Homo sapiens: one gene and its partner. The protein of the gene in region 1 purifies or fractionates together with the protein of each later gene. This does not show direct contact. Each region holds a gene or a part of one and is shown on either strand. Other genes may lie near its edges.

Region 1 (3,500 bases):
CCACAACTGTGCATAAGCCCTTCTTCTCCAGCCCTGGCTCAATATAAACCTTCCTCCTCCAGGAAGCCTTCTGTGACCACTAATGATAGAGTTAGGTGCACCTCTTCTGTTACTCCATGGCAGTCTGCACATATATATCAAATTATTATACTGATCATACAGTCCTATGATTTTTTAATTATTGATTTACTTATCTCCCTGAGTCAGTGTGTTTCATTCTTGAATCTCTAGTGCCCGCCACTTACATATATAATAAATAAATGCACCTTTGCCCATTTGGCAGAGGCCACTGACCTCCTGCCTACCTCTTGAAGACCCTACGCCAAGGTTCTGAGCTGCCTCCCCTGCCTTTAGATGCTGCCCTAAGTCTTGATCCCAGAAGGATGGGCCACCAGAGTCATGATGCAGCACATGGTCCTGATTCAGCCTCTGCTCTCCACTCCTCACCTGGATCCCCTAGATACTCAGAATGACCTAAATCAATATCAAGTTCATCTTGGACAAGTGGTTTGGACTTAGGCTCTCCTCCTTCCCCTCTGAAAGAATTCATCCCCATAGCTTAATCTCCCAGCCCTGTCTTTTTCTGCTCATTTCCCCACTTTGTATTTTTTTTTTTTTTTTTTTTTGAGACAGGGTCTCACTCTGTCATCCAGGTTGGAGTTCAGTGGCACGATCTTGGCTCACTGCAACCTCTGCCTCCAAGGCCCAAGCGATTCTCCCACCTCAGCCTCTCCAGTAGCTGGGACTACAGGAGTGTGCCACCATGCCTGGCCAATTGTTTTATATCTTTGGTAGAGAAAGGGTTTCGCCCAGGCTGGTCTCGAACCCCTGAGCTCAGGCAATCCACCTGCTTAGCCTGGGATTACAAGCATGAGCCACTGCGGCTGGCCTGATTCCCCCACTTTTAACCTATTACACAGAGTGGTAAAGCATAGGATATAGAGTCATACTGACAAGTTCAAATCCTGGCTGTGAAGCTCGTCAGTGTGCAACTTTGAGCAAATTACTCAACCCCTTTGTGCCTCAGTTTCCTCATTTACATTGGCAATGATAATACTAGTACCCACCTAATATGGGTGAAAATTTAATAAAATATCATACCAGATGTCTGGCACAGGGTCAGGATCATAGAAGACACTTGGTGAACATTAGCTATCAACATCTCCAGCAGAGAGAGGCAGGTCCCTCACAGACTAAGACATAGTCTGGCTGAAGATAGGGGTCCAGGCTCCAAAGCCAAGGTCAGGCCCCTCAGTGCCCATGGCCATTGATATCACTGGGAGACATTTCTCTGACAAAGGCCCCTGCCCTAGCAGGTCTACCTAGTCTACAGGCCCTGATTTATCCCATCTACCTCCTCTCTCTGCTTCTGCAGCTAAAGACACACTGGAACCAATCAGACCATTTAAAAACAGAGCTAGGTCAGGCACCATGGCTCATGCTTGTCATCCCAGCACTTTGGGAGGCTGAAGCAGGCAGATGGCTTGACTCCAGGAGTTTGAAACCAGCCTGGGAAACGTGGTAAAACTCTGTCTCTACAAAAAATACAAAAAATTAGCTGGGTGTGGCAGCGCGTGCCTATAGTTCCAGCCACCTGGGAGGCTAAGGTGGAAGGGTCACCTGCGCCCAGGAGTTTGAGGCTGCAGTGTGCCATTGTTGTGCCACTGCACTCCAGCCAGGGTGACAGAGTGAGACCCTGTCTTAGAAAAACAAAAACAAAACAAAACCAAAAGCAGAACTTTCTCCACCATCCAACTAGAGGCACTTTACATTCTTTTGGAACCAGCTACCCAAGTGAAACACACGGCAAGAATGAGCGGTGGCTGCTTCATCTCATTGGAAACTGAAGGATACTTGCATGCTAGTCCTTTGTACACATATAAGGAAGTATATGATCGAATGTTAATTTTAAGGTTGGAAATCTGATAATTATACATTCTTCATTTCTATTTAATTCTCCTTCTTCACAAACAATGTTCAATGGGCAGGTGATATCTGTAACACTATTTTTTTTTAATTAATTGGTAATACATAAACATAACAAATTCAAATAGTACAAATAAGTACATAACAACAAGTCTGTAAGACTTTCCTTCCCCCTCCCCAGGCAACCACTCTTATAATTTTCCTGTGTATCCTCCTAGAAGTATTTAATGCACTAATAAGCATATGAGAATATAGACAGCCTCCATCTTTTTCTTTTTTTTTTTTGAGATAGAGTCTCGCTCTGTCACCCAGGCTGGAGTGTAGGGGCATGATCTCGGCTCACTGCAACCTCCGTCCTGTGTTCAAGCAATTCTTCTGCCTCAGCCTCCCTAGAAGCTGGGATTATGTGCGTGCACTACCACACCTAGCTATTTTTTTTTTTTTAGTAAGAGACGGGGTTTTACCATGTTGGCTAGGCTGGTCTCAAACTTCTGACCTCAAGTGATCCGCCTGCCTCAGCCTCCCAAAGTGCTGGGATTACAGGTGTGAGAGCCTCCATCATTTTTATACACCAAAATGGTAGCATACCACACACAGCTGTACTTTACTTTTTAAAAAATATCTTCACTGTCATTCTATATCAGTTCCTATCAACCTGCACCATTTTTTAATAGCTACATAGTATTACTCTGCATAGATGTTCCATAATTTAACCAGATCTTTACTGATGTTTAGGTTGTTTCTACTATTTTGCTACTACAAACAAGGCTGCAATGTGTATGTCTGCTGGGGCTCAGAAACTGATATCCCAAAATATGGTGCTTTGACATGCTGAACCAAAGACATCCCCCCTCCTACCTCCTGTCTCTCAATCCTCTGTCTCTCCCAAAGTTGTTCTCTGAAGTTCCCTTATCTGACTAAAGTCTGGACCTACCAAAAAAGGAAACCATTACCCCTAGTCCCTTCCCTGAGTTTTCATTAGCTGAATTCATATTGTAGTAGGAAAGACAAAAGTCTGTCAACACACCTGGATGGACTTTTGTCACAAACCATTGTCTGTTCTGTGGGCCCAAGAGGCTCTGTCCCGGGCCATTGTATGTTCTTCGAGCCAGCTGAATTCCCCCAAACATCAGTTGCCACCTCCCTAAAACATCCACACTTCCTCAACTCTCTTTCCTCTAAAAAGTAGGGTGTAGGCCAGGCACAGTGGTGCACGCATGTAATCCCAGTACTTGGGGAGGCTGAGGCAGGTGGATCACTTGAGCCCAGGAGTTGGAAACCAGCCTGGGCAACATGGCAAAACTTCGTCTCTACAAAAAAATACAGAAAATTAGCCAGGTGTGGTGGCATGCACCTATAGTCCCAGCTACCCAGGAGGCTGAGATGGGAGGATCCCCTGAGCTTGGGAGGTCGAGGGTGCAGTGAGCCACGATCATGCCACTACACTCCAGCCTTGTGCAACAGAGTGAGACCCTGTATTAAAAAAAAAAAAAAAAAGAAGTAGGGTATACAAGCATCTGCACCCCACTGGAATATTAAGTAAATTCACTCTGTGATTTTCCTTCATGTATAAT
Region 2 (3,500 bases), on another chromosome or scaffold:
AACCATACTTTAAGGTAAGGTATGTAAACTATTATAACTTTCATCTGTTTCAGATCAAATCCCAGATATGACAGGTAGGCTGTCTGTGCCTTCATTACAATTAGTTGTTCATACCTGTATTTCTTCCACTAGACAGTAGGTTTCTCAAGAGCAGCAATCACATCTTACTTTTTACCTGGCCTGATGTCTAGCACAAGGGAGATATTTCATACTCATGAAATGAACACTTGAATGACAGAGCTATTTTTTCATAAGTCTCAATTTGTAAATTATTTTAGAAATAAGTTCTCAAGAAGTCATGACTGGTTTTGTTGCTAGAAACCTTTATGATAAACTTTGTGTAAGCATCAAGTTACTTTAAAATTATGAGAAGTCACGTTATTAGTTTGAAAAGGATAGTAAGGAAAAAAAAGGAGCTAATAGCCAGAGTCTAGTCAATTACCAAGTGGAAAAAATGCCACTAAAGTCTCTCTCTGTTATTTTGGTGAGCAGATTAACTGCTTTCTAGTACTGGTGGTTGTGACGCTAGGTAAAAGGGGAAATGTAGGGCAGTTGCTATGCGTTGCCCAATGCAAGATCAATATTCTTTAAGTGGTATCCAGCCCTGTGATTTCAAAATGGATGTGTGCTTAATTCACTCCAACATGTGAATGTGTCTTATACCTTTCATCCAAGAGGCTGTAAGGCTAGAGGCATGCCAACCCTGTGTCTGTGCCTGTCTGTGAGGGGCACATGTGTGAATCAGGTCAGAGATGGCCACAGACACATAAGCTCACTGCTCTCCAACACAGGTTTCTTCTCTATCACAGAAGGGAAACTAACACACCTAGCTTCTCAACTACTTTAAGAGATTGGCGAAAGCATTTATTGTTCAGGCTTATTAGCTACAGATAATCAGGATCATCAATTTTGAGAGGAGGAAGACAACCCAGAGATCATTCAGTGTGGCGGCTCTCAAATGTTTTAGCCATGAACACCTTTTTCCATAAGAATGCATATTGAAGACCAATATGTACAACAAAGGTCAGAGAAGGAATCTTTACCAACCTTTCGGGAACCATGAAGGAGATTCATGAAATCTCTAATGTCCATCACAGTATAATGTTAAAAACCTCTGATCTCATACCCATTAGGATGGCTATTACTAAGAAAAAAAAACAAAAAAACAAAAAGAACACAACTATTGCCTCATGCATGACAGTCTTAACACCACCACAAGGCCAGTAGCTCCCTACATCTGCCTCTCAACTCCAGCCCTTCTCTTGGCCTCACCTTCTCCCCAACTTCACCTATTAACTAAGCCTAAAAATCAGCCGGGCGCGGTAGCTCACACTTGCAATCCCAGGACTTTGGGAGGCTAAGGCGGGCAGATCATGAGGTCGGGAGTTAGAGACCAGCCTGACCAACATGGTGAAACCCTGTCTCTACTAAAAATACAAAAATTAGCCAGGCATGGTGGTGCACGCCTGCAATGCCAGCTCCTCAGGAGGCTGAGGCAGAAGAATTGCTTGAACCTGGGAGGTGGACACTGCAGTGAGCCAAGATCACGCCTCTGCACTCTAGCCTGGGTGATAGAGAGAGACTCTGTCTCAAAACAAAACAAAACAATCATTTCCAGTTAGTAAGCCTACTCCCCAAGATCCTCTCAGCCCTAAGCTAGATGTCCCCCATATGCCCTGTAACATCCCTGCATCTGTGTACCACAGCACCTACCAAACTGTGTTATAGTAATCTGAACTCCTCTACTGTAGGCTCCTGACCAAATGTCATTCATCTTTGTACACTGAGAACCTAGACCCTGCCTGGCTGTGGCTGGCCCTCAGGGAATGTTGACTGAATAAAGACATTTGTTGGTAAAGTCAAGATGAGACCTGGTGGCTCTTTCCACTGCTGTAGCTGATGGCCTCTCCTGATAACGTAACCTCTTATTTAGAAAATAACTACAGAGAAACAAGTACAATTCATTCTCCTGAGTAATTCAGTAACACCCAAGTTACCGCCAACTTTCTGGGATGGAGAAGGCAGTGGAGAAATGAACTGCAAAAAAAGAAAGGCCTTCTTCTTCTCCTTTCATAGACATCTGTTATTTTTACAACAAATGAGGAGGACTCTTCCTGGCAGTTTGAGTGACCACAATTTAAATCAATCCATTGAGAACTCATGTTTTATATTACAGTGACCTACATGCTGGTAAGACCTTGAGGACAAGCAGTCTGCAATGGAAAAAAAAATATTTGAAGGCTATGTCCTCAGCTCCATGACTTTTCTAGGCCTGGTGGAAGGCAGGCTCAGCCAGAGAGGAAATATTTTTAGACACGGCTGCTTCAGAGTTGTAAAAATAGGCTAAGTGACTAGCACATTTGTCAAAGCCCCAGAGCACTCTGACCACAGGACCAAGTAAACATGCCAAGCAGAAGCACACTGGATTTATTTATCTTTGTAAATGTATCAAGAAGATTTGAAGCAGCTTTCTCCGAAGCACAACTTGAGTGGTGAGTCTATGAGACCTACATCAACTGGTCTGGTGACTGGTCTCCCTCCCATCTCCTCCCTCAACAGTTCCACTGGATGTCCCATGTGCCTAGACATTACAAGGAGGGCCACCGTTTTCATCCTCTCTCTGGAAAATCCCAAAGTTATGCAAACTATCTACCACACATGATTTCTGACTTTCTTCAGATCCCCAGAATAAGTAGACTGAGTCAGAGCTCCCTGAGGCCAACTGTGCTTCAGAGGCTGCAGCGCCTTAACAGCAAGGCCTGCCTTTTACGGTTGTCATGGTTTGATCCAGAGAGGAAAAAAGTCATACATCAGTTGCATCTCTCAGGGCTGGCATTTCTGGGTTTATGATTGTCTCTGGTTGTGTAATGTCTTGAACTCTGCCATCAGCACAAGTTGTCTTCCCTGACTTCAACAATTAGCAAAAGCTGTTCTGTTGAGGATGTCAACCACCACCACCACAACCAGCTGGTTTGTTCTTTTTTTTTTTTTTTTTGAGAAGGAGTCTTGCTCTGTTGGCCAGGCTGCAGTGTAGTGGTGTGATCTTGGCTCACTGCATCCTCCGCCTCCTGGGTTCAAGCAATTCTTCCACCTCAGTCTCCTGAATAGCTGGGACTGCAGGCATGTGTCACCATGCTCAGCTAATTTTTGTATTTTTAGTAGAGACAGGGTTTAACTTTGTTGGCCAGGCTAGTCTCGAACTCCTGACTTCAAGTGATCTGCTCGCCTCAGCCTCCCAAAGTGATGGGATTACAGGCGTAAGCCACCATGCCTGGACTGGTTTTTTTCTTCAAACAGTTAAATTAATTGGACAGACTCCTTTATTAGACTTCGAATTTTACATTTCAAAAAGTATTTCTAAAAGGCAAAGAAAGTGTGCGCCCATTTTTAGACTAGAATTGTGTTACATAGTTTTTTTTTAATTCAGTAAGTGTGTAGGTTTCATAATAACCCAGATAACCTCTCCCAGACTTCTCACCTCCCACAAATTCTGAAAAGGT

The links.
Region 2: the proteins of ANXA4 (region 1) and HADH fractionate together in Homo sapiens (co-fractionation; one large-scale study listed by BioGRID). This does not show direct contact.

The regions. Positions count from the first base shown.
Region 1 is NC_000002.12:69,748,634-69,752,133, reverse strand, and holds part of ANXA4 (annexin A4), read right to left. Parts: intron 1-3,500. UniProt on the Homo sapiens protein: Calcium/phospholipid-binding protein which promotes membrane fusion and is involved in exocytosis.
Region 2 is NC_000004.12:107,996,389-107,999,888, reverse strand, and holds part of HADH (hydroxyacyl-coenzyme A dehydrogenase, mitochondrial isoform 2 precursor), read right to left. Parts: intron 1-3,500. UniProt on the Homo sapiens protein: Mitochondrial fatty acid beta-oxidation enzyme that catalyzes the third step of the beta-oxidation cycle for medium and short-chain 3-hydroxy fatty acyl-CoAs (C4 to C10).